Linked DNA regions of Homo sapiens. The protein of the gene in region 4 purifies or fractionates together with the protein of the main gene of each other region. This does not show direct contact. Each region holds a gene or a part of one and is shown on either strand. Other genes may lie near its edges. The genes, in order: NEDD1, TNKS2, RPUSD4 and ZNRD2.

Region 1 (6,907 bases), on a different chromosome or scaffold from region 4:
TCATTCCAAAACCTTTTGGAATTATTTCCACAACTACCAACCTTATTCCATTTGGTTCAATAAGAAATTTTTGATAACTAATTCTATGGTGTAGACAGAATATACTTTTTTTAATAGCAGTGTTTTCAAATGAAGTGGGTTGTAACTAAATTTTTTTTAAATGAACGCAACAGATAAAATCAGAGTGCATTCATATGATATATTGTTTTGTAAATTACTATTTTACGTTATCTATCCTTGGTAGCAATGCAAAACACATTACTCAGTATGAGGCACATGCAAAAGTTTCATTGACAGTGGTTGTTTAACCTAATAAGCGGTTTGTGTGTGTGTGTGTGTGTTTTTTTTTTTTAAAGGATACTATTGCTGCTCCAACATATTGAGCTGATTCCATGTGGTGATGTGTGTGGGTTGAATTTATCCACCAATGTCATAGATGAAGCATCCCATATTTTAATATCATCTCCTGATGAAGCAAATCTGAGGTTTTCCTGCATGACTGCGCCTACAAATAGTTTAAAACAATGTATTTTAAAAACATTTAAGAATAGACATACTCAAAAAAAGGTCAAAATCTAATCTAAAACAAGTGGCTCTAACTCATTCATTTTTGTTCCAAACAGTGCAGTCACCAAAGCAGTTGAAGTGATTTTCCTAAAACATAAGCCAGGTCGCATTCTCTTAGCTGACCCTTCCAATGGCTCCTCACAGTAATGATAATGAAATCCAGCCTCCTTAGCCTGCCTTACATGTCCTGGCCCCCATGTAACTCTCCTCTTTCTTTTCACTGGCCTTCTCTCTGCCTCATGCAAAGGCAAAGTCATTCTCACCTCAGTGTCTTTTCATTTGCTGCTCCCTGTGCCTAAGATGTTCTCCCCAGATTCCCATGGTCATCTCCTTCTCATCATTCAGGTCTTAGCTCAAATGTTTCCTCCTATGAAAGGCCTTTCCTGACCACCCTGGCTAACGCAGTCCCTTCCTTACCTGGTAAGGGACTTAGCAGTTTACCCTATATCCCAATACCTGATTTCATTTTTTTCATAGCACTTCCTAATATCTGAATTTTTTTTTTTTTTTTTTGAGACGGAGTTTCACTCTTGTTGTCCAGGCTGGAGTGCAATGGTGTGATCTCGGCTCACCACAACCTCCGCCTTCCAGGTTCAAGTGATTCTCCTGCCTCAGCCTCCCGAGTAGCTGGGATTACCGGCATGCACCACCACACCCGGCTAATTTTGTATTTTTAGTAGAGACGGGGTTTCTCCATGTTGGTCAGGCTGGTCTCGAACTCCTGACCTCAGGTGATCTGCCCGCCTCAGCCTCCCAAAGTGTTGGGACCACAGGCGTGAGCCACCGTGCCCAGCCACTATCTGAAATTTTTATTTGTTCTTATAATGTCTGTCTCCCCACACCAGAGTCTTGAAACATTCCTGGCACACAGCAGTTTCACAACAAATAACTACTAATAAGTAACTTCCTAATTTTTAAAAAAAGTATGATAAACTAGCATTTCTGCAGGTCAGAATCCAGTCACACCAGTTTTTCCAAAACTCTAAAATTAGCAATATGGTCAAATGAGACGCCACTAAGTCCCTATACCAATACTTGGACTACGATGCCTTCAATCATTTATTCAGAGCATACAGCTGAAACACGTAATTCTAACAAGGTGATTTCACAAACCAAGGAAGTCTAGAAAACAGAAGGCAAAGAAGCTGCTCTAGACAGGCACTTTAAAGAGCAACAGGTAGTAATGAACGATAAGTGAGAAAAAAAGATGCTCAAAAGTACATGGGAGAAAAGGAAAGGGAGAGGGCACAGAATTATACCTCCCACACCTTCCTAGTATGGAAAGTGCAAGACTACTGCACAGCATTAGTGATGTCACAGGCAGGTCCCCGAGTCACCAATACAACAGCACACCTACGTCTAGTATAAGCCATTTCAGAGGACAAGTTAAAGACAGAATTATAGAAACGTTTCATTCTCGAGACAAAAAGTTAATGTAATTCACTCATGTGCTTCCTTATGCTCCATTCATCCGATACAGTGCTACTAAAAGCCATTAAAGTCACCTGCAGAGATGTAACACAATGTTTGGATTTGGAGCCTTAAACATGTGTAACACGTGCCCCCTTGGTTCCCAAGTCAAGGAACAACTAATGAATTGCTGGAAAAGCGAGCTCTAAGCCCTGTAAACCACAACTGCAAGCTGTGTCTAACTGCATCGTAACCAGGCCTGGTGAGCTGCGGGGTGTAGTGGGTAGATCACTGAGGCCTGGGCTCAGAAAAACTGGGTTCAAACGACCTGCTCCAACTTAGGAAACACAACTCGCCGGGTGATTTAATGTTTGTTTTCGGCTCTTAAAGCGGGGCGGGGAAGAGGACCATCTGCCCACCTACCTCGGTCTTCTAAGAACTGAGCATTAAGGGAGAGACTTTACATGAGTCCCTCAAAGACGGTCCCGTCGAAAGCTAGCAGTCAGGACACAAGGCGGTAACGTCGGCCTGGGTTTAGGGACAGCGGCTACAGGAACCAATTCAACTACACCACTCAGCTGAAATGAAAGTTCTCCAACTTTCAATCACCAAAAATACACTTTACTTGCAGGACAACAGCTCAAGTGAGGCTAACCTGTAAAATGCATCCAAGTACCTGCCAAAAGAAAAGTACTTGAGGTTGACAAAAAAGGAGACAGACTTGTGGAGACGAGGCAAACTTTTCGGAGGCAGCACACCCCACAAGGCTCCGGGAGGTGCGCGACCCCGGCCCGCGCCTCCCCGGACACTTCCCAGCCCAGCGCGCCGCCGCGCCCCCGCCCAGCAACCGCTCCGGGCGCGCAAAGCCCAAGGACCGCCGCCCCGCCCTCTGAGGGGGACGGAGCGGGTCTTAGGATCGGGAGGGTGCGCGGACGCGGCGGGCGGGGGCCCGCTGACCTCAGGGCCTCCGGAACCTCACCTCTCCGCAGCAACACAACAGGGGGCCGCGGCCGGCTCCGCGCTGGGCTTCCGGCTCCCGCCTGGACTGTTAAACTTCGGCGGCCGGAAGTCCCGCCCCGAGTGACGTCACGGGGCGAGGCGCTGCGTGCGGCTGTGGCTTCTGGCCGGACAGAAGTCGGGGTACAGAGGGTCTGGTCAGGGCGGCGCTGGGCAGCCGCGGGGGAAGTTATCCCAGTGTCAGGGCGGGAACTGCGGGCCGGGGCGGCCCTCTCCACGCCCCAGCGACGGAGCTCCGGCCACTGCCAACTGCTTGTCATTCACTTGCTGTTTACTGTGTGCCAGGCACTGTGCTAGACTCTTGAGTGTACAGTGATGGTTTAGCCTGGGGATACAGGGGTACAGTGAATTCTCGTGGTCCTTGGCCTTGTGGAGCTTACAATGCACTATAGGAAGCTGACGTTATTAGATGCTTAAATGGAAAGTGAAACTATGATAATGAAAGGTATAAGATGCACGAAGACCCATAATAAGGGAAACTATTGTGGATGTGGATTTAGGAAAGGATTCCTACATGCGATTTACAAGCCAGGAAACGCGCTCAGGCTGAGAAATAACCCAAAGAGTAGGCGTCTGCACTAACCTACTTCAAAACCCATGATCTTTCTTTCGCATCATGCTGCGAGGTCCGGAACATCAAACATCATCTGTTTGGGAATTCTTTTGAAGGGGATACTTCAAGGTGGAAAAGGAAGTTGCTGAGCCGAGTTTTCAAGTGCCCCTTCCAAAGGTCCTTTTATAGCTCTACTGACAATTTTTGCTAAGAATATTTATCATAAATATAGAGCATTTCTTCTGCAAAAAGTGTTATTCTTTCATCACAACTACATGGGGTGTGTTTCTGAACTAGGTACATCAGCCCCAGTTATCTGCATTCATATTGCAGATAATTGGAAAATTCTAATAAGTGCATTTTTTCAGAGCAGAAATTGAAATCGTAGCCAAGTTACTGAGGTTCATGGGGGAGTGGCAAAAGGAGAAAGATAGCAAGCAGCAACTACCTTAATTGTACAGTCTGCAGTTCTTGAGGCTATGAAATCCAATTTGGGCAGGGAGGAGGCCCAGAAAGTTGGGAACTAAGAAAGTACGGTAAGGGAGTGGGGGCAGGGAGAATGGGAGCAAATGGAGAAAAGAAAACTTCAAACAAAAAGGGCAATTAATTAAATCTCTGAAAATTGAAGCCAGCAGGAAAATTGAGACTAGACTATATGAAAATATATATAATAATACATGTAATATAATATATACATATTATATGATATAATACTAGTTATACATATAAAAATAGATATTTATTGAACACTTTACTAAGCACTGTATTTGTGTATATAGACGTAATGTGTATGTATGCAATATATATATAATTTCATCTTTCTAAAAACACATGAAGTATGTGCTATTATTTGTCCCCATTTTACATATGAGGAAATAGAGGTTAAGTAACTTGTCCAAGGTTACAAGTTTAATAAATGGTAGATTCAGAAGTTAAACCTGGGACCATGAGACTGCAAAGACTGTCCCAGACCTTTATGCTATACAGTCAAGAGCCATAACACAGCGTATAGGGCCAAATGGAAACCTCCATTCCTCTGTCCTCACTGATGCTGCGGCCTCATCAAATCTTACTGGCCCTGAAACAGTCCTGTCATTTTTGTCCGTGCCTCTGTGCCTATGTATACACTGTTTCCTCAGTTCTGTATAATAGTTTAACGAACAATAGATGCCAAATGTTAGAAGCCTTGCTAATATATGAATTATATAAACATATACAGATTTCCAAAAGTAGCCATCACAACAAAGAATATTTCTAGAGACAAAGAGAAATATTTCATAATGATAAAATGGTAAATAACCACAAGCCATTATCAATTTTAAGTGTATAGGTGAACGTAAGAGAATTTTGAAATATATGAAGAATAAGTATCAAAGCTAAAGGAGGAAAAAAGCATACCCATAGTCATTGTTGGAGACTGACAGAATTTTCTCAGTAATTCATAGAACATCCAGATAAGAAAAACAAATCAGAAAAGATGTGGAAGATCTGTACACTTATCAACTATTTTAACTGACATTTATAGAACACTATAGCCAACTACTGCAGGATAAACATTCTTTTCAAATACACATGAAAATGGAGCATATATTGGGCTATAAAACAAGTCAATTGATTTTTAACAGAATAAATCTTACAGACAATACTCTCTGATCACAACAGTATTAAATATAAATAAAAAACAATAACACATCTAGAAAAGCCCCAAACGTGAAATAAAACAACCTTACTTCTAATAACCCATAGGTGAAGGAAAAAATCAAATCACAAATATTAATAATAACAGAAAATATTTGAACCGAGTGATAAGTAAAATACAATAAAAATTCATGGAAACAGCTAAATCAGTGCTTATATTATGAAATCAGTGTTTATATTCTGAAAAAAAGAAAAGTCCAAAATCAATGATCTATGCTCTCTCTTAAGAAACTTAGAGAACAAATTAAACACAAAGATTACAGTACAGAACAATGAAATTGAACAAAGATGAACAATAGAGAAAAATCAATGAAACCAAAAGCTGATTTTTGAAATGATTAATAAAATTGAGAAATCTCTAGCTAGACTTACCAATAAGAAAGAGAAAACACAAATTACCAATATCAAGATTGAAAGAGAAGCCATCAATACAAATCCAAAGGATATTTACAAAAATAAGGGAATAGGATAAACAACTCCATGTCAATAAATTTGGTCACAACTAAAACAAATGAATACCTTGAAAGACAAGTATTAAAACTGACACAAGAAGCAATAGATAATATGATAGCCCTATATGTACCATAAAAATTGAATTCAAAATTAAGAAAGCCATCTCACAAAGGAACCCCAGGATCAGATGGCTTTACTGTTGAATTCTATCAAACACATGAAGAAATAATTCAACATTTTAGGAAAACAGAAAAGAAGAGAATATTTGCTAAACCCATTTTTTAGAGGCAGTATTACTCTGATACTAAACCAGAAAAAGACATTATAAGAAATATCCATAATTCATATCCCTTATGCATGGAGACAAAATTATATAGATACACATATATATGCAAAGTAAATCCAGTAATTTATAAAAAGGATTATAATCAAGTGAGATTTCTTCGAGAAATCCAAGATTGGTTTAACACTCAAAAATCAATTAACATAATTCACCATATTAACAAAATGAGGGAGAAAGCCCATATAATTATATCAATAGATGAAGCAAAAACATTTTTTTTAAATTTAATATCTATCCATGATTTAAAATGCTTGACAAACTGAAAAAAACAAAGGAAGGAAACATCCTCAACTGGTTCAAGGGCGTCTACAAAAAGCCTACAGACAGCACCTTAGTTAATGATGAAAGACTGAATGTCTTCTCCTAAGATTAACACAAGAACACCCAGTCTTACTAGTAGTCCTATTCAACATTCTTCTGGAGGCCCTAGGCAGTGCAATAAGACAAGAAGATGAAAAGAAAGAGAAGAGGAAATAGGAAGAGGAGAAAGGAGGAGAAGGGAGAGGAGAAGAAGAAAACAAGTATACAGAGTGGAAGGGAAGAAGTAAAACTCTTTATTGCAGACAGAATGATTGTGTACTGTAAAATCATAAGGAATCCAGAAAAAAACTCCTAGAGCTATGTGAATTCAGCAAGTCCTATGCAAGGTCAATATACAAAAATAGAATTCTATAAACTAGCAATAAACAATCAGAAAAGTAAAAATTACAATTTCATTTCTAACAACATCCAAAAGTATGACATATTTACACATAAATGTACTAAAATATGTTCAATAATTGTGCATTGAAAACTACAAAACATTACTGAGAGAAGTTAAAGACCTAAATAATGAAGAGCTGTATCATGTTCATGAGATAGAAGAC
Region 2 (6,913 bases), on a different chromosome or scaffold from region 4:
GTGGCAGGCGGACTGAAAAGGAAACAATTTACAGAGTCATTTTTCTCCTAAGGAATTACTTCTTAAATAATATTTATCTAGAAGAAAAGTATGCAATCTAGTTCAGTAATAAAAAAACACCTAGTAGAAGGAAAATTCCTGTTTATGTTGACTATCTTCTTCATTAACAGAATTTAACTCTCTTGGTGCTAGCAACGGATTATTCTTTTAATTGAACTAACTTTTGGGGATGAAATTAAAGCAAATGTTTTCTAAACTAATTTTCATTTTCTGTGGTCTGCACGAATCTCTCAGTCCTAATATTACTTGGGAATCAAAACAAAAAGACAAAAACATGCCTCCCCCAGTAAAATCTCCAAACTTTAATCAGCTAAAAAAATTTTAAAATAATGATGTCCCCCATCACCTCCAATAGCTCACTCTATGACTGAAGTACAAACACAAGAAACTGCTTGATCAGGCAGTTACATAATACCACCACCTGTGTTGAACTTCCAACAGTATGCTTGCAGGCACATTAACATGACTGATAACTCACTACCTACAACAGATTATAAAGTATATTCTCCATATATTAAGTGAAAAGGTAGCTGGATGCACTTAAAAAGCTTCTCTCTGATGAACCTAAAATTCAGATTAAATTTACAAACCCAATTTTTAAAAAAGTTTCTTATATGATTGAAGTGCAGGACTTCAAAAGCTCTGGTTGAATGAAGAACCCCCACTTCATAATTTTTATTACTCCCTTTTTATACCTTTAACTCTTAATCTGATAACCTATACCTGATAATTTGGGTAAGTTGTGAGGGGTGGGTTGGTTTCCAAAATATTAAGTCTTCCAAACTTGAACAAAATGAAACCTATGTAAAAAATATGCTTTGAAACGTTGGGACAGAACTGAAGGTGGGAAGGCAGAGAAGGAACAAGGTCACTGAGGATCTAATAACATAATCTTACACCTCTAAATATTACTATTTTCAGATATGAACTCACTAATACACCAAATTCTTGAAAGGTAGCAACTAAGATCTTTCTTGGTTATTTTTATCCCACAGATCAAGTGAACAGAATCTAAGTAACCCTACCCTTTGGCTTATGTATCAGTTGATCGTGACAGTTTGCCAAATGAGTTGTTTAAATGTTGACTACATGGTCAAACAGGACAACCTAAATTAGCTGAAGAACGGCAGCACTTACCACCGAAATTTCGGGCAAAAAGGCTAACTAGGTGTGTTTGACTTAAGTATTCTTCCTTCTCTTTCCATTGCCCACAAACCGTTTCTAGTTCTCCCACCTAGGTTCCCTAAACTTTCTTCTTTTTAAAAGACTCCCCAATGGAAATCCAACAAAGGTGCAATTGATCAAAAAAGCATACCTCCTGGTAGTATTTACATTTAAAATCTGGAACAGGTTAAAGCGAACAAATCTCCAATTGGTAGAAAGTGTAAAAGTAATATCTGTGAAAGAGGAAATATTTCTCACTGCTCCTTTTCTCTTCATCAATCTAGCCCCAAAAGAACAGGAGTACTTTAAAAGGTATTCCCCGATTTTTCAAAAAATTGTTTTAAACAATCATGAAATACACAAAACAAAAAACCAGGATTGTCAGAGGTAAGAGGAGGTACTCCCATTTTCAATCACGCATGACTCACCTGAAGTTAGAAACAGTCATCATCTTTCCTACAAGTGAACAGCATGCATGCTTTATGGGAATAAGCTGAATATCCCATCTATGGCTCTTTTAAATTTTTCGACTAAATTTAATATGCTTAAATCATAAAGTGAACCTAATAAATATTAAAATAATGTAATTCAAACGATCTAAATTTCAGAATGAAGCAAGGTTAGTCCCAACTTAAATTCTAGATTCAAGCTAAAGTACTTGCACTATCTTTTCTCTTATACTACCACTTTCCGCCCAACTTGTATGTGTGTGTGTCTAAGGCTTCCCGCACCCAGCCTAAGTCAGGTTTCAGTTCTCCCAAACTTGCCTATTTCCCGTTCTAGTCACTCCAGAAACTTGGTAATGATTGGCTATTCTGATAAACCAATTAACGCTAATGTGTCAACGTCCTATTAAGCTACTCCTCCTAAATTACATCCTTGTATTTTACAAAGTCCTTCAAGACCTTAACCCAAATGGAACTTGCAAGAACGAAAAATTTTGGAGGTAACTGACCTTTTAAATCATAAGGTCTATCAACTACGTCCCCTACTCTTTCTTGTGTGTAGAGGCCTTCTAGGGTAACAAGACCGGAAGTTGGTACAGGTATTGTTGATACTGTAAAACAAAACAAAGCCAAAACCCCAAACCACCCCCAACACCTGGCAAAAAAACCAAACCAAGACAAAACAAAAAACTTCCAGCGAGTGTGGCACGCTCACCCTACCCCTAATCTCCTTAGTCCCCACTGGAAGAGAGCGAGATCACCAGGACCAGAGTCCTGGAGAAAGGTCGGGAGGCGGAGGAGCACTGGTTTCAGACCTGTGGGCCCCGGCTGCGCAGGTGGGGTCTGGAGCGAGGCGAGGGGACGCTGGCCCCGGTTACCTGCGGCGAAGTGCAGCGGGGTGGATTTCCTGCCCGCCGTGTCGCGGCTGTTCACCTTCTCAGGCGTCACCAGCCTCTTGACTCGTTCCACGTCCCCGTTGCGGCACGCCTCGAACAGCTCTCGGGCGGCCGGCTCCACGGCCTCGGCCGCGGCGCTCGCGCAGGCCGCTCCCCCGCCGGCGCAGCGGCGACCCGACATGATCCTGGCCGCCGCCACAGCCAGCAACAGCGCCAGCAACCGGAGCAGGAGCCCCGGCCCCGCGAGCAGGAGGGCGAGGCCCCCCGGAGAAGACGCGCTCAGGGCCCGGGCCGCTTGGCTCCCTGCTGTCACCGGATCCGGCGCAGTCCCATGGCCGCGCCCACGCGCGCCCCTCGCTGGGCTCCCTGCCCCCCGGCTGCCCCGCGGCGGCGGAGGCAGCGCGAATCCGCCGTCCGGGTCCTGAAACGACGCGGCGGCGGAAGCTGGCAAGGCCCCTCCTGCCAGCTCCGTCCAGCCCCGGGAGCGCACGTGACGTCGTCCCGCGCGTGCGCAGTGGCCGGGCACCGGCTGGGCAGGTTTCGGCTAGCGAGGCGGCGCGAAGGGTTTGTGGGAAATGTGAGGCGAGAGGCTTCGGCGGCGGGAGAAGGGGCTTCGTCCCACCGCCATCTTTGCGGTGGGTTCTGCTGAAGCCGAACGATCCTGCATATTGTGTTTTTTGTTGTTGTTGTTTTAAGCCCTGGGCTTTCCAGGCTGAACTTTCTCACTACCATTACACTGAAAAAGAGCCCTTGAAAGTTTTGCTCGGATCTTGCACATTCTTTTGGAAGTCTTACTGTGGAAATTGTCCGTGTTTTCAGCTTCCACATCCCTTTCTCCTGGGAGATTTCTTTTCCGTTTTTTTTACTTTGTCTCTTTTCTTTCCTCCGCAACTGCTTTGTTGTTGTTGTTGTTGTTTCTTGTAAACCACTTCTCAAAAGTGAACTAGTTGCCGTTTAATAGAAGTTTGGATGAACTGCCCCCAAAATAAAGGAAATCCGAACAGTCATGGAAGTTGACTCCAATTGGAGGGATGGCTCTGATCAATTACTCTTTCCACAGTAAGTTATTAGCTCAGGATTGATTAGAGGAACTTTTTGTAAATCAATATTGTACCTGACATGCCTAAAGTTTGGATACACTGAGCATACGCATCTCCAAGAAAGTTTTCTGAGTTATAATCTTTTTCTTTGACCAACAAACAAAAGAAAAGCATATAATTGATTTTCATGCTTAAGATACTGGTGTAGTTTTACACGATAATTCCCCACTACACCCCCTTGTCTTAAACTGAAAGAAAGGTATGCCTATACATACATTTTACTTACAGAAGATGATACATGTTGACCTTTGCCATTCTGAAAAGCATCCCCCCCCCAACCTCCTACCTTAACCTGTTTTTCAGGAAATCCAGTTTTTGTTGGGGAATGTTGACTCACTACAGTGCTAAAAGAGGATGTACACTTTTTTGAGCATTTTTATACATATGAAATTGAAGTTATGGTGCTTATCAATAACATGAACATGCATGAACGAACCTAGGACTAGAACACTACCAATATGATTGCGTTTATCATTTTTCTTCCCATAAATCTGCTATGGTGATCTATGATCAGTGATAAGTTGAAATCACTGTTGTAATTGTTTTGAGGCACCACAAACCACACCCATAGAAGACAGCAATCAATCAATAAATGTGTATGTTCTGACTGCCCCACTGACAGGCTACTCTGCCATCTCTCTCCCTCTCCTGGGGCCTATCTGTTCCCTTAAACACAATAATATTGAAATTAGGCCAATTAAGAACTCTGCAATGGTTTTCTAGGTGTTCAAGTGAAAGGAAAAGTTGCGTATCTCTCACTTTAAATCAAAAGCTAGAAATGATTCATCTTAGTGCAGAAGGCATGTTGAAAGCTGAGATAGGCCCCCTTGCACCAAACAGCCAAGTTGTGAATGCAAATGAGAAGTTTTTGAAGGAAATTAAAAGTGCTACTCCAGTGAACACATGAATGATAAGAAAGTGAAACAGACTTACTGCTGATACGAAGAACGTTTGAGTGGTCTGGATAGAAGGTCAAACCAGCCACAAGATTTCCTTAAGCCAAAGCTGAATCCAGAGCAAAGCCCTAACTGCCTTCAATTTTGTGAAGGCTGAGAGACCTGAGGAAGTTGCAGAAGACAAGTTAAAAGCTAGCAGAGGTTGGTTCATGAAGTTTAAGGAAAGAAGCTGTCTTCATAATATAGAAGTGTAAGGTGAAGCAGCAAATACTGATGTAGGAGCTGCAGCAAGTTAACTAGAACAGGGGTCCCCAACCCCCGGCCCTTGGACCGGTACTGGTCCCTAGCCTGTAAGGAACAAGGACGCACAGCGTGAGGTGAGCAGAGAAGGTGCAGGGCGGGGGATGGAGGCAGGGTGGGGATGGGCGGGGAGTGAGCATTACCGCCTGAGCTCCACCTCCTGTCAGATCAGCAGCAGCATTAGATTTTCACAGGAGCGCAAACCCTATTGTGAACTGCACATGTGAGGGATCTAGGAATTTGAGGCTATGGTGAGCTGTGATCATGTCACTGCACTCCTCTACAGCTTGGGTGACAGAGACCCTGTCTCTGAAAACAAACAGAAAAACCAGCTTGAATGGATGAGGAGTTACTTCTTATGGAGCAAAAAAAAATTTTTTTCAGATGGAACCTACTCCTGGTGAAGATGCTGTAAAAATTTTTGAAATGACAACAAAGAATTTAGAATGTTACTTAAACATAGGTGATAAAGCAGGAGCAGAGCTTGAGAGATAGGCTCTATTTTTTTGTTTGTTTTGCCATTAAGTTTCAACACCCAAATAGACTCTAATTTTGAAAGCTCTGTGGGTAAAATGCTATCAAACAGCATTGTATGCTACAGAGAAATCTTTTGTGAAAGGAACAGTCAATCGATGTGGCAAATTTCATTTTAGCTTCTCTTAAGAAATTGCTACAGCCACCCCAACCTTCAGCAACCATTATCAGTTAGCAGCCCTCGATATCATTGCGGCAAGACCCTCCAACTGCAAAAAGATGACAAGTTGCTGAAGGTTCAGATGACTGTTAGCATTTTTTAGCAACAAAATATCTATTTTTAATTTTTAAAATTGTTTGAATTTTTAATTTTTTGGGTACATCACAGGTGTATATATTTATTGGGTATATGAGATATTTTGATACTATCACTCAATGCCTAATAATCATATCAGGGTAAATGGGGTATCAGTCATTTCAAACATTTATCTTTTGCATTACAATCAATTATACTATTTTAGTTATTTTTAAATGTACAATTAGATTATTATTGACTATAGTCACTGTGTTGTGTTATCAAATAATAGGTTTTATTCATTCTTTCTAATTATTTTTTGTACCCATTAAACATCCCCCACCCACTTCACTTCTCAGCCTCTGGTAACCATCATTCTACTATCTCCATGTGTTCAATTGTTTTAATTTTTAGCTCCCACATAAGTGAGAATATGAAAAGTTTGTCTTTTTCTGCCTGGTTTATTTCACTTAACATAATGATCTCCATTTCCATCTATGTTATTGCAAATGATAAGCTCTCATACATTTTTATGGCTGAATAGTACTCCATTGTGTATATGCACCATGTTTTCTTTATCCATTCATCTGCTGATGTACACTTAGGTTGTTTCCAAATTTTGGCTATTGTGGACAGTGCTGCAATAAGCATGGGAGTGCAGATATCTCCTCAATATACTGATTTGCTTTCATTAGGGTATATACCTAGCAGTGGGATTGCTGGATCATATGACAACTCTATTTTTAGTTCTTTGAGGAACCTTCAAACTGTTCTTCATAGGGGTTGTACTAATTTACATTCCCACTAAAAGTGTACAAGGGTTCCCTTTTCTCCATATCCTTGTTGGCATTTGTTATTGCCTGTCTTTTGGATAAAAGCCAGTTTAGCTGAGATGAGATGATATCTCACTGTAGTTTTGGATGAGCAAAGAAAATGTTTTTTACATTTCTCTGATGATCAATGATGTCAAGAACCTTTTCACATGTCTATTTGCCATTTGGGTTTTTTGTTGTTGTTGTTTTTTGTTTTTTTGAGATAGAGTCTCACTCTGTCGCCCAGGATGGAGTGCAATGGCACGATCCCGGCTCCCTGCAACCTCTGCCTCCCGGGTTCAAGCGATTCTCGTGTCTCAGCCTCCCGAGAAGCTGGGATTACAGGCACCTGCCAGCATGACTGGCTAATTTTTGTATTTTTAGTAGAGATGGGGTTTCACCATGTTGGCCAGTCTGGTCTTGAACTCGTGACCTCAAGTGTTGTGCCCACCTCAGCCTCCCAAAGTGCT
Region 3 (6,969 bases), about 61 Mb from region 4:
ATGTGATATATATATAGATATATATGTGTACATACATATGTACACATGCATATACTGCATACACCAGACACGCATATACTGCGTACACCAGACACGCATATTCTGCGTATGCCGGACACGCGTATACTGCGTACGCCGCACACGCGTATACTGTATACACTAGACATATATGTAAATGCGTTGAGTAAGAACCAGAGGAAAAAAAACCAAACTGATTACATGGGTTGTTACCTCAAGAGAAAACACTAGAATGGCAGAATGGGTGGATTCTCCAGGAGTTTTTCACATGATCTTTGTTGTTTGACTATTTTTAGCATGGGAATAAAATCATATATTACTTGTATAATTAATTAATTTTTTTTTCTTTAGAGACAGGATCTCACTCTGTCACCCAGGCTGGAGTGCAGTGGTGTGATCATAGCTCACTGTAACCTCAAACTCCTGGGCTCAAGTGATCCTCCCACCCTGGCCTCCCAAGTAGCTGGGACTACAGGTATGTGCCACTATACCGGACTAACTTCTTACTTTTTATAGAGAAAAGGTGTCACTATGTTGCCCAGGCTGTTCTCCGACTCTTGGCCTAAAGTGATCCTCCCACCTCTGCCTCTCAAAGTGCTGTGATTACAGGCGTGAGCCACCATGTCCACCCCATGCTTGTATAATTAATTTTTGATAATTTTGATGTATACCAGAATTAAGAACCACTGTTCTATCAGACTTAATATTCTAAGCACCAAAGCTGTTTCACATATTTTTTACAATCTCGCAGGTCATAGTGCAGTGCCTTCTATTAATGGGAGTTTCTGTTTTTAATGAATAAATAGGTGAAAGAAATGCCTCCACTTATACCACCTCTACTGCCATCAGCAGGCCTCATACCAGTACTTCTTCACCACCTGACGGGTTCTAAACAACTCTTGGACTTGATGTGCCATGTCCTTGTCCCAAGCCAACACCATTACACCTGTGGTTTCCTTGTCCAGCCGGTGGCACAGATGCAAGGGCTCTGCCTTGTGGCCATGAAGCATCTTTGCCAGGATAGGTAGTACATCAGTGATGCAGAGCTGGACCCCAGGGCCACCTAAGAAGGAAAAAGCCAAAGGTTTGAGCGGCCAGGAAAAGATCTCGCCAAAGAACTCTCCTTGGGAGAAAAGCCCTTAATGGATAAACTGTCAATATTTTCTAGAGCCTTACTACTGAAGTGTGGTCCAGAGACTAGCAACAATGGCATGTCTAGGGAGCTTATTAGAAGTGAATCTCAGGCTCTCAACCTAGACTACTCAGTCAGAATCTGCATTTTACAAGCTGCCCAAGTGATTCAGAAGCATATTAAAGTTTGAGAAACACCATTCTAGAGCATGTGGCTTCCTCTCAGACATACTTTGAAAAACCATGAGGCCTTCGAGAAGCATTAAATAAGAGTGATTAGGAGGATAGACTTCGGGGTTAGACATTCCTGGGGTTCTACTCTACTCTTCTTACTAGCCATTTTTTTGACCTTGGACACATTACTTCTCTTTCCAACTTTGCTTTCTCGTTATAAAATGTAAATATCTGGAAAACAACTTCATTGGGGAATGGAAAGGCAAAAAACTGTTGCGAAAATAAAGAGAGAAAAAAATTATACAAACACTTGGTGATGTGATTTAATTCCTTGTCTTTGTGAACAACTATCTCCGTATCTCCCCAAAAAGCATTACCTTCTTCTAGCTAAAATGGGCCTTTTCCCTCTTTCACAAATGCATTTTTTAAATCAATCTTTCCTGATTCACTTCAGCTGTCCCTGACAACTACATGCAACATCTGTTGAAAGACATTTGAAGGTCCACTAAATTCCAGTCACTCTGGGGTTGTATGTTACATATACTCCAACATACATACACACACACACACACACACACACACACACCCCCTTTTTTCTTATGTATCATTTTCTCATTCCCAGTTCTGATGGAAGATAACCTTTAGTCTAGAACCACACAGCCTTTGTATATCTCTACAGCGATCCCTGTAGTCTGCACACAGCGTATTCTACGAATTGCTTACTGTCAGATGTTTAGAAAGGGAGGACTGTCTTATTTATTTATTTCTGTGTTCTCGGTGGTTCCTTATATTGGACGGTAGTTTACAAAAGTTTAATTAATTTGAATGCAAGGCTTTAGAGTGCACCACAAGTAACGTCTCAGTTTTCCTCGGTTGTAGCAGAAAGCAGCTGCAGGTTCCTCCACCTTTCCCGCGTGGTCCTTACCATGCACAGGGAGACCGTAGGGCTTATTGATGACCACAAGGTTCTTGTCCTGGTGGAGAATTCCTCGGGTCAGTGCCTTAGCAAGCACGTTGGGGTGGACTCGCTGCAGCTGCCGTGTGAACCGCACTATTTCTTGCACTCTCCGCTGAACAGCGTTTGTGGACACCTAGGGAGAAAGAAGGAGCCGTGGGGAATGCCTGGTGCGGAAGCCGTGGAGAAGACCTTCCATAAAGGTCTGGGTGAGAATCTGAGTAGGGAATGACTATCTTTGCATCAGACCCGCGCCGCCTTCGACTAATTTGAGAGCAGAGATACCCATCTGTCTAACCTGCGTACCGACGCAGTGGTTAGGACTGAGCCTGACAGTAGCCAAAGATCCAGCTCACGGGAAAACACCGTACCCTTACTGACCCCTCCCCTCCGCCTTCTCCCCATTCTCCCACCTTGCGTCCGGGCTATTGACTCACACGCTTTCACTCAGAGGACCCTCCTACCTACTCCCCGTCTGGGAAACCAATGAGCGCACTGCCTCTAGGGAGTTCTGGTCCCTTTGGACTCACCGGCTCCTTCTTTGTGTCTTGTTCCCGTTTCTGGGCTCGGAGCTTCTCCGCTAATCTCTGGGCATTTATGGCCGTAGAGGCAGCGGCAGCGGCACAAAATGGCTTTGAGACGAGAGTGAAGAGACTCCCGCAACCTTGGCCGTTTCCCCGGATCCAGGGGCCCGACGCGCTCCACCTGGGCGCCGCCATCTTACAAGGAAGGGCGGGGCGAGCCAAGACCACGTGGAGAAGGGCGACTACAATGAGGCGGGAGTGGGTGGGCCCTGCAGGTCACGTGGTGCGGGGTGGGGCCTGGGCGAGTCACGTGGGGACGGTGCGCGCTCAGTGCGGCTGCGCCGGCCGGTAGCTGCAGCTGGAGCAGTGGCGTTTGGAGGAGACTCGGTGAGTGTGTAGGGAAGCCGGGCTGGGGCTGGGAAATGCCGGTGCCTCAACGGTTTAACGTTTTCTGCGTCCCCGGGATTTCCGTTCAAGAAGAGCACTGGTCTGAGAAACGTTTCTCCTTTTGGTACACGATCCCACTCAAAAACTCCTCCCCGCCCCCGCGCCCCCTTAGGAGCGATGTCCCATAAACGCTCGCCCCAGAGCCCTCCTAGGCACCGACGCCGTCCCTCTTAGCCACTGAATCTCCGGTGATCCGCCAGTCCCCTGCGGGACGCGTCGGGGACCCTCTTGATCGGATGCCCGGATCTCTGTAGTCTCTCCACCCTTCATCTTCCAACTCCCAGCCTCTTTGTTTCGCGTTGTAACCTGTACCCTTCTCCTAAGGATGACGGCCCCTTCCCTTATCCAGGGCCCCCAGCACCTATTTCCTACTTAGGAAGCACTGTGAGTGTTTTTTCTGCCCTTCCTCAAGAATTCATTTCTTGGGGGTCTCCTCCCTACCTTCCCTACTCCTCCTAAAGAAAAAGCTGAAAGAACGGAGCACAGACCTTCACTTTTCCTGTTTCCTTTATTTTTCCTCTCCATAGTTTGCAACCACACCATACCTCCTCTCACGAGATGCGATGTTGGGATTCCCTTGCCCGAACTGCAGGCGACTCCCTCTGATTTCACTCAGGGGTGGCTGGGAAGATAAACATCTGTTTGGGATGGTAGTGTTAAAAATAACTTGGGATATACCTGCCATTTGTTAAGAGGAAAGCTTATGCTGAGTTCAGAAAGAATGTCCTGAAAACTAATGGATCTGTGACGATAGAAGGAACAATTTTTTAAGACTGCTTGGAATGAAGGCTGCCTGAGGAGTTATTAGAGAATAGGTAGTTGAATTAGATTTGGGTTCTACACCTCCTAAAGGGTTTGGCAGAAGGGAGCCGTACCAACAAGAAACAAAGTTGATCAGGTGGAGCTACTCATAGAAGACTCAAGTTGAAGAGTTTGAACTAGAGGTGATACGTAGTGAGGAGTCTTTGAAGCTTTTCGAGTAGGGCAGAGAGACTCCTTGAAAGTGGAATTCTGGAAATGAATCTGGCAGTTGAATGCAGGACAGATGGGGAAGGAAAGGGTTTGATAGTGGGGAAGGAAAGGGTTTGATAGTAGGAAAACTAGTTACAATCTAGGTGGTCAGTGATGAGGTCTGGTCTTTTCCCCCTACACTGTAACTCCTTTGAGTTTGAATTAATTGAGTTATGCAGGTCAAGGCGTACTCTTGGCAGCTGCTGTTGATCTGTGAGTCCCTGGAAGAATTTTTTTTTTTAATCCACTCACCTGGCACATAGTAAACTCGATATCTGTTAGATGGCTGAAGTGCATCATAAATGTATGCTAGGTGTGTCTGAACATTTTGAATTGTCTTATTTCTGTCAATGTTTGGCCTGAAGAATGAAGGTAGAGGAAGATGTATTTGTAAAGTGGGAAAGAAGCAAGGCTTGTGTACGTTTCTCTTATAAGGCAGGTGTAAATGCAGATCCAGATACAAATGCAAAGATTTCCAAGGGAGATTGGGAAACATCTGTTTCTCCTGTTCCCCACCCACCCCCTGCAAATTTACCAGTAAGACAGAGGTCTATAAAAGTTGAGAAATTCCACCCTAAAAGAATTATTACCTTCCATGCTCCAGACCTAGGTTCTAATTTCACTTGAACATCACATATTACTTAGATACTTGAAGCTCAATTTTCCAAGGACCCTGAAGTTTTGACATCGGGACTTAAATTCATATCATTACATTAATTAAAAACTTGTTTTGGGTACAGGACTTTTATGGTTTTGTGTCGGGGATGGGAGAGGCTGTTTCTACCCTAACCTTATGGCATTCAAGAAACTACACCTGTTCTTGCAGAGTTGGCCTTCTGTGGCGGGAAACAAAATGAAGAACCAACTCAAATGTCATTGCTAGTGACACAGAGCTTATGCTCTAGGGTTTCAGGTTAACTCAAAGCACACACTTAGTGACTTAAGAATAAAAATATTGGTCCCTTTTTTCTGGAGAAGGAACTTTTAGGTTTGTCTTGTTGAAACTTTGTAGAGAAATTTAAAGAATTCAAAGTTTTTGTTTGGTATGACAGTGCAGCTTTAGCCAGTATGGGTACATAAGTTATGACATCCTTAATGTTTCTCCGGTGAGTCTAGGCACTTGGTGATTTAAAGTAGAGTTGTTCTCAGTATAAAGAATTTATGTGGCCGGGCGCGGTGGCCCACGCCTGTAATCCCAGCACTTTGGGAGGCTGAGGCGGGCAGATCACGAGGTCAGGAGATCGAGACCATCCTGGCTAACATGGTGAAACCCCCGTCTCTACTAAAAATACAAAAAAAAAATTAGCCAGGCGCGGTGGCAGGCGCCTGTAATCCCAGCTACTCGGGAGGCTGAGGCGGGAGAATGGCGTGAACCCGGGAGGCGGAGCTTGCAGTGAGCCGAGATCGCATCACTGCACTCCAGTCTGGGCAACACAGCAAGACTCCATCTCAAAAAAAAAAAAAAGAATTTATGCAAATGTCATGTCTTTTTTTTTTTTTTTTTTCCAATTTTCAAAGAGCAATAATCACCCCTCAGATAAACCTCATTGGCTGCAATACTGCCACTGCAAAAAACTCTTTTGTTTCTGTTTTTTTTTTTTGTTTTTTTTTTGTTTTTTTTTTTTTACCTCTATATTGCCTCCTCCCTGTTCCTCATTCAGCTGGTCCTTTTTTAGGCAGTTCACTTTTCCACTTCTGCGCCAATGTCACAGTCCATTTGTTGGGAACTCCTCTTGTCTAAATGTTTTCTTAGAACAAGGAAGGAAATTCTATTAGTGATTTCTTCATTCTTGCAGACTACGGCTCTGTTCAAACATGACTTATTTACATTGATTTTGATATATCATAATATGTGCCCCTAAAGTAACCATATAAAGAAGAACTTGATAGTTTCTTTTTAAAGATATTTCCTAGTCTATTCAGGAACAAAAAGGCTGCATTAGTATTTCGCAAATATAAACAAACAAGGACTAACTAATAAAGGAACTTGCGTTTATCACAAATTTAAGGTTAATTAGTGGTATAAAGTTAAGTTACGCCTCCTCAAACTGTGATTTGCTAGTTGCAGATTAACCAGCGATTCCATTTCCTTGAAGAGCAGGAAGTACTTGGACATTGTTTTATGGTTTTAGAGAGATTAAAGGAGGCAATTAGCAGGAACTCTTGGGAGGTGCCCTGGAAAGTACAGTCATTGGGAGCCAGGAGATGTGGGACTAGTTCCAGTTCAGCCGCTGCGTACTTGAACAAATAATTTGGGCTTCAGTTTTTTGTCATTTGAAAGATTTTTGCAACTCTGTTTCTAGTCTATGAAGATTTTCCACTGATACTGAAATACTTCTCTTTCAGCCCGAATTAGTGGGATTTATTTCAGATTTATCTTGAATACATTTAGCATTGATACTAAGAAACTGGATTCTGCTCTTGTCCCCAGAATTTAACTTTTTGCCACTGAGCTAATGTTTATGTTTGGAGGTTACTTCATTGAGTGGTGTTGGAATATACTTTTAAGATTTCTGGCCAGGCGCGGTGGCTTACGCCTGTAACCCTAGCACTTTGGGAGGCCGAGGTGGGCGGATCACGAGATCAGGAGATGGAGAGCATCCTGGCTAACACGGTGAAACCCTGTCTCTACTAAAAATACAAAAATTAGCTGGGCGTGGTGGCAGGCACCTGTAGTCCCAGCTACTCGGGAGGCTGAGGCAGGAGAGT
Region 4 (6,683 bases):
GCGGAGGGGGGAAAAGGCTGAAGGGGGCAGGCGTGGTTTCTTCACGGTTCTTTTTGCTACCCCGTCTCCCCGCCGCGCCCCGCCCCGCCCCCACACCCAAGGAAAATGATCTAACAGTGGAGTCAGGAGACTGGCAAGTCCACACTTGGTGCCTAACGTGCCACCTGACGCTGGGGTCACCACAAACTCCTGTCGGTGTCTGAGTACCTGGGGTGGGCATGAGATGGGATAGGCTGATAGGGTCAGGATGCTCAGGGGAAGGAGGGGAATCTATCAAGGGGATCGGAACACAAAACCTCACTTCCAGGTGGGGAATGGACACCAGATGGCGGAAGAGGCTGCAGAGGTGCTGCCAGAGACAAGGCTAGGGTCCACCCCTCTGGCTGCTACCTTTGAAAAGGCTATGGCTTCTTCCTTAGAAAAGGGGCATCACATAGTCCTCTACCTACTCCCTCATCCTGACTGGGGAAACTGAGAAGAAACAAGCTCAACTCATCTCAGGGCGTCAAGGAGAGCAGAGTGGAGAGGTGAAGAGGCCAAAAGCTGGAAAAAGGTGAGTGGAGCTGGGGCTGGCATGCACACTTGGAACCAGGAAAAAAACAAACCACACAGAGGAACAGCTGTTTTTCTAGAGGGTTTTTCTCAGGGGCTTCTCTTAGTGCTGTAGCTGCTGCAGGCTGCGCAGGGCCTCCGCACATGCGCGGATAAGGCCACACAGCTGGATGCTAGTCTCCAGGGAGGTGCTAGAGCCCAGTTCAGCAGAGGCCCAGGTCAGCTTCTGCAAGAGGGCTGTCTGTGTGCAGGCCATGACATCTGTATTTGGAGGCACAGCAGGAGCAGGTGGCCCCTGGGCTGCCTTGAGTCCTGCTGCAGCTCCCTCACAGTGCTCCGGACGAGGTACTGGGGGCTGGGGCGCAGGTCGAGAGCCCAGGGGGAGCTCTGAGGCTGAGGCCAGCTGGTGCTCCCGAGCTTGGGAGAGGGCAGCCTGGGCATTCAGAGCTAAAAAGAGGAGAAAGTGGGTGGAATGGTCAGGATGCCTGGCCCACCTCAGCCCTGAGCCATCTCCTTTTCTGCTCTGCTCTTTCTGTGCTTGAGGTGTTTTCCCTGTCCCTCTATAAGGCAACTCATCCACTTTCTACTTTGTATCACATTTATGCCCTAGCTTCAATTCTCCATCAGTACTGGGCCTGGTTGAGCTCAGACTCTCGCGCAGTGGCTGGCACACAGGAGGTGCTTGGTGCTCTTATTGAGTTAAGGGTCCTCTTTAGAGCCTAAAGGAGAAATAATTTTACTTCTACCCCACCCAGAGACTCCACTGTCACCTCTCAGCCCTACTGTTCTCGGGCCTCTATCACCACTTAACCACGCTTCCCCCCTAAGCATATCCGGCCCCTCTCCCGGATTATTTTTTACTCTTACCGGGATTATCTTTATCCACGTCTGAGTCGAGTTCCTGACAAGCCACGCAGTAGATTTTCCGCTGTTTGTCTTGGAGGAGGATCGTCTACGGACCAAAAAGCACACGGGGCCGGAATGAGACGCCGGCAATGGGGTCCAGAGGGGAGGGCCGGGGAAGGGCTGAGTGGCCTGGCCCGCGGACCCATCCCCGGTCACTCGCCCGAGTCTCGCCTCACCCCGCAGTCCGCACACGTCTCGCCCAGCATGCGGTAACCGCGCAGCAGATAGTCGCCCATGAGCCGGGAGATGCGATCTTGCCGCTCCCGTCGCGCCTGCAGCACCTTCGTCTCCGCCTCAGTCGGGGGCTCCCAGGAGAAGTCGTCGACTTCTGGGGAAGAGAGGCATAGGGACTGGGGGTCTTGCCGGAGTGGGCTGCCTCCCGTACCTCACAGCCACAAACCCCTGCCGCCCAGGTCCTCACCAGCTCCGTTCAGGGCCATGTTGCCGTTGTCACCGCCGGGCTCACAGGAAGTGACGTCAAAGCGGAGCGCCCTCCGCTGCGGCTCCGCCCGTTCCATAGCTGCCGCGGATCAGGGCGGACGTGACGCCTTAGCGTGGTCCTCAGACCTCGCTGTGCCCGGGGTGGGGCGTGTCGGCTGCTACCGAGAACCTGCTCGGGGGACGCGTCCGTCAACCGGAATCCAGGGGACAGAAGCTTCCGACGCGCGAGGCCTCGGGAGGAGCGTCTCCTTGGTAACTCTCCTCCGGTCGCAAGACCTGGAAGTGGCCTCAGGGGGTCGCCCTTCCTGTCCGTCGTGGATGAAGGGGACCACTTGGCTTCAGAAATCCCCGCTGGCCTCCGCCTCCCCTGGGGTTTCCCTTTCGGCGCAGGCGGGGCAGCGGCGTCATCACAACCATCGCCACCCCAGTAATCACAGCGAGCGGCCCTTTGCGCACGCGTGGAGCCTTCTCAGGCCTCAGTACTTCTCACTTCGCCCGGCAAGGCTGGCCAGGAGGGGTGCATTCTCCCTTTCCGCGTATTTCAAGACCACTCCCCTTCTGCATGCTCGGTGTCCCAGTCTGTCTCCTCGCTGCCTCCCGAGGCCTGGAACTGAAGCAAAGTTCGCCCCGAAGCCGACCGTTCTTTGAAGTTGAAATCCTCAAAAAGCCTGCAGACTGAATAGCGCTGTACTGGGCACGCGCATTGCGCTTCCAGCCGCCCTTGGGTGCTGCGTGCTGGGCCGGGTCGGGTTGGGGCCTTCCTACATACTCTTGCGACCATTAGGCTCTTCTTGGGTGAGTTGCAAGTTAAAATTACCAGGGCTCTCTGAACATGGACCTTGGTGCTTTTTTTCTCTCTCCCTCTTCCGTGTTCTTTTTCAAACGCATCTTCTCCCTTATTAGATTCAGAGAAGCCAGACAGGGCAGGCAGGGGTCCTCAGATGTGCAGTCTGCAGGGCCTGAGGTTGTACACCAGGGCAGTGGAAAAGCAGCTAGGACTTGGACTTTCACAGTTACATCGACATTCTCCTCTTCCGGATGGCACATGCCCCCTCAATCTGACCTGAAGTCCCTTCCTCCTGGCCCCCTCTTCCTTCCACGTAGAACCCCTGGAACTGTCATTCTTGCTGCCTCCTGCTTACGTGGAGAGCCCTGTGTCCCTTTCACATCTCCATCTACCAGTCAGGCTCTTGGGCAGCAGCGTACCTGACTTAGGGCCTGTACCACAAGTCGTTTCTATCAGGCTGAATAGAGCCACCGTTTTTTGTGTGTTTGTTTGGTTTGGTTTGTATTTTTTGTAGAGATGGGGTTTCGTCATGTTGCCCAGGCTGGTCTCCAACTCCTGGACTCAAGTGATCCTCACACCTCAGCCTCCCAAAGTGCTGGGATTACAGCGAAGAGCCACAGCACCTAGCCTGAGGCTGACTAGAGGAACTGTCTCTGAACCATCTCTTGGACTCCAGCCTGTATGCACAGACCCCCAGGTTATTACCGTCTCCAGCTCCCAGCCCTACCCTGAATTCCTCAGTGCGCCGACTATGTCACCATCATGGCCAATATCCACTCAACTGTCTATTCTGCCTCGCACCTACAAAGAGCCTTACATGAGTCCTCTCACTTAATCTCTCCAATTTACTCCTCATGACAACCTTACATATCCCCACATAAGCAGGAAACTGAATAATTATTTTAAAATACAGTGTCGTTCTTGTACTAAAAACCATCTGGCTGCCCGATACTGTGGCTCACGCCTGTAACCCCAGCACATTGGGAGGCCGAGGCGGGCAGATGTCTTGAGATCAGGAGTTCAAGACCAGCCTGGCCAACATAGTGAAACCCCTTCTCTACTAAAAATACAAAAATTAGCCAGGTGTGGTGGCGGGCGCCCGTAATCCCAGCTACTCGGGAGGCTGAACCAGGAGAATTGCTTGAACCGGGAGGCAGAAGTTGCAGTGAGCCGAGATCACACCACTGCACTCCAGCCTGGGCAACAGAGTGAGACTCTATCTAAAAAAAAAAAAAGCCATTTGGCATCTCCCATCACACTTAGACAAAAATCCAAAGTCCTTGTTATGGTCTCCAAGGTCCTATAAATCTGGTCCTTGACCCCCCAAATCCAGACAACACATAGAGAGATGCACACACATCTCCCATCCTTCCTGCATCCCTCTTCTCCCACTGCTCAAGAGGACTCTTGTCCCTTTTCTCCTCTCAGGGCCTCTCACCATCTTAAGTTCCACTGTAGGGTGGACAAGACGCAGAACTGGAATGAGGCAGGCCTGGGTTTGATCCTGGATCTATTTACTGTATCACCTGGAGTAGTTTACTTCATCGCTGTGGACTTCAATTTCTCATCTGTAAAACAGGGCCAGTAGACCAGGTGCTGTGGCTCACACCTATAATCTCAGCACTCTGGGAGGACATGCAGGAGGATTGCTTGAGACCAGCCTGGACAGCATAGTAAGAACCCATCTCTAAGAAATATATGTATTTTTTAAATTAGCTGGTGCAGTAGCATGCACTTGTAGTCCCAGCTACTCAGGAGGCTGAGTGGGAGGATTGCTCCCAGCCCAGGAGATCCAGGCTGCAGTGGGCCATGATCAGGCTTCTGCATTGCAACCTGGGTGACAGAGCGAGACCCTGACTCAAAATAAAAATGGGGCCACTTATGCCTATTTGTTGCTTGTTTGTTTTTTGAGATGGAGTCTCTGTCACCCAACCTGGAGTGAAGTGGCGCAATTCTCGGCTCACTGCCACCTCCACCTTCCAGGTTCAAGCAATTCTTGTGCCTCACCCACTGGAGTGGGATTACAGGCATGCGCCACCACAGCTGGCTAATTTTTTTTTTTTTTTTGAGACGGCATCTTGCTCTGTTGCCCAGGCTGGAGTGCAATGGTGCGATCTCGGCTCACTGCAAGCTCTGCCTCCTGGATTCACGCCATTCTCCTGCCTCAGCCTCCCAAGTAGCTGGGACTACAGGCACCTGCCACCACGCCCGATTAATTTTTTTTGCATTTTTAGTAGAGACAGGATTTCACTGTGTTAGCCACGATGGTCTCGATCTCCTGACCTCGTGATCTGCCCGTCTCGGCCTCCCAAAGTGCTGGGATTATAGGCATGAGCCACCGCGCCCAGCCAATTTTTTAAATTTTTATTTCTAGTAGAGACGGTGTTTCACCATGTTGGCCAGACTAGTCTCAAGCTCCCGACTTCAGGTGATCTGCCCACCTCAGCCTCCCAAAGTGGTAGGATTACAGGCCTGAGCCACCGCGCCAGCTTCAAAGATGTTTATCTAGGGAACAGCTATGGAAGATGGAGATAGTGTCTCCCTCCAGAGCAAAGGACAGCCATGCTTACTGGCTTTGAGTTTCCTAAGCTTAGGGTCCTCTCCCACAATGTAATTCGCTCTGTGTGCCCACACTTGCCTGAGCCCATCAGCATCACCCCCATGGGACTTAGGGTCAAAAGGAACTAACGGAAATATGCTGGTGCTCATGCTGTTTGCTGCACAGCGATCAAGTCCTTTGTCTCTGACCCAGGACTCTCCTGTATTCTGCCAGCATTCTTGAACCTGACGGGCTACCTTGGTAGCTTGCAAGTGGGTAAGATCTCAGATGCTTCACAGTCCTTGACATAGAAGGTGCTCACAGGTGTTGGTGGTAAAACCTATTCGCAGCAGTCACAGTGGACAGGCCAGTGTCTGTGGAGCAATGGGCTTGGGCTCTTTCACACCCTTCCCTTGCCGACAATATATCACACCTTCAGCCAGGCATGGTGGCTCACAACTTTAATCCCAGCACTTTGGGAGGTCAAGACTGGCAGATCACTTGAGGTCAGGAGTTCGAGACCAGCCTGGCCAACATAGTGAAACCCCATCTCTACTAAAAATACAAAAACTAGCTGGGCATGGTGGTGCGAGCCTGTAGTTCCAGCTACTCATGAGGCTGAGACGGGAATTGCTTGAACTGGGAGGCGGAGGTTGCAGTGAGTGGAGATCCTGCCACTGCACTCCAGCCTGGGCAACAGAGCATGGAGTCAGGGAAGAGAAAGGAGGGAAAGGAGGAGGGGGAGGGGGAGGGAAGGGAATCACAGTTTCATGTGAGCCAGTCCAAATTGGTCCCTCCTTGTGGCACTGATGACATGGCTGTAGTTAGGCTCTTTTCTGGGTGATAGAGCACCCCACAGCAGCTCAGTCATGCACAGCTCAATTACAGCTCCCCCTGGGCTGGCTGATTTGGTGGGGATGGTTCACATGGCAACAAGTGGCCTATGCCATGTTGCCTGGCCTCTGAAAAACGTAACTTATCATTTGTATTTTCACACAGGCACTGAAAAGGGGTCAGCTATTCTTTTTTTTTTTTTTTTTTTTTTGGTTTTCACTGCAATGTGAATCACCTTGACATTTCTGTGAAACAGGAAGTGGCTGGATGATACAACAATAAAAATAATCACACTCAACTTGGTGTGTGTGTTTTCTTTGGGCCAGGCACTGTGTTAAGAGCTCTTTATGAAGTATTTCGCTTATTCCTTAGGACAACACTGGCAGCTAGGTCTTATCATCATTCCCAATTTGCAAATGAGGAGGCTGAGGCCTGGAGTAGTGAGAGATGTATCCACAGTCACCCAGTTGGGAGTGGCAGGGCTGGGGCTCCCGGCTGGCAGCCAGTGTACCTCTTGAGCCTGAGCTCTTACCAGTAGATTTCTCCCGTGCTCAAAAGGCGGGGAAGAGTGGCAGGGCAGAAGGGCCCCCTGATTTATCAAGCGTGAAGGTAGTTTCATCTCAT

Evidence for each region.
Region 1: the proteins of ZNRD2 (region 4) and NEDD1 purify together in Homo sapiens (co-immunoprecipitation; 3 studies listed by BioGRID and IntAct, with this or other methods). This does not show direct contact.
Region 2: the proteins of ZNRD2 (region 4) and TNKS2 purify together in Homo sapiens (co-immunoprecipitation; 3 studies listed by BioGRID and IntAct, with this or other methods). This does not show direct contact.
Region 3: the proteins of ZNRD2 (region 4) and RPUSD4 purify together in Homo sapiens (co-immunoprecipitation; 3 studies listed by BioGRID and IntAct, with this or other methods). This does not show direct contact.

Annotation. Positions count from the first base shown.
Region 1 is NC_000012.12:96,903,350-96,910,256, reverse strand, and holds the start of NEDD1 (protein NEDD1), read right to left. Parts: upstream 3,001-6,907; 5' UTR 2,957-3,000; intron 2,792-2,956; exon of another isoform or gene 2,654-2,791; 5' UTR 2,646-2,653; coding exon of another isoform or gene 2,633-2,645; 5' UTR 2,401-2,632; intron 506-2,400; coding exon of another isoform or gene 498-505; coding exon 362-497; intron 1-361. UniProt on the Homo sapiens protein: Required for mitosis progression. Promotes the nucleation of microtubules from the spindle.
Region 2 is NC_000010.11:91,794,525-91,801,437, reverse strand, and holds the start of TNKS2 (poly [ADP-ribose] polymerase tankyrase-2), read right to left. Parts: upstream 3,013-6,913; 5' UTR 2,748-3,012; coding exon 2,549-2,747; coding exon of another isoform or gene 2,486-2,548; intron 1-2,485. UniProt on the Homo sapiens protein: Poly-ADP-ribosyltransferase involved in various processes such as Wnt signaling pathway, telomere length and vesicle trafficking.
Region 3 is NC_000011.10:126,208,642-126,215,610, forward strand, and holds the start of RPUSD4 (pseudouridylate synthase RPUSD4, mitochondrial), read right to left. Parts: upstream 3,010-6,969; 5' UTR 2,998-3,009; coding exon 2,809-2,997; intron 2,415-2,808; coding exon 2,249-2,414; intron 1,082-2,248; coding exon 880-1,081; exon of another isoform or gene 853-879; intron 1-852. UniProt on the Homo sapiens protein: Catalyzes uridine to pseudouridine isomerization (pseudouridylation) of different mitochondrial RNA substrates. Acts on position 1397 in 16S mitochondrial ribosomal RNA (16S mt-rRNA).
Region 4 is NC_000011.10:65,565,707-65,572,389, reverse strand, and holds ZNRD2 (protein ZNRD2), read right to left. Parts: upstream 1,914-6,683; 5' UTR 1,899-1,913; coding exon 1,880-1,898; exon of another isoform or gene 1,787-1,879; coding exon 1,635-1,786; intron 1,505-1,634; coding exon 1,420-1,504; intron 1,000-1,419; coding exon 656-999; 3' UTR 502-655; downstream 1-501. UniProt on the Homo sapiens protein: Might play a role in mitosis. Antigenic molecule. Could be a centromere-associated protein. May induce anti-centromere antibodies.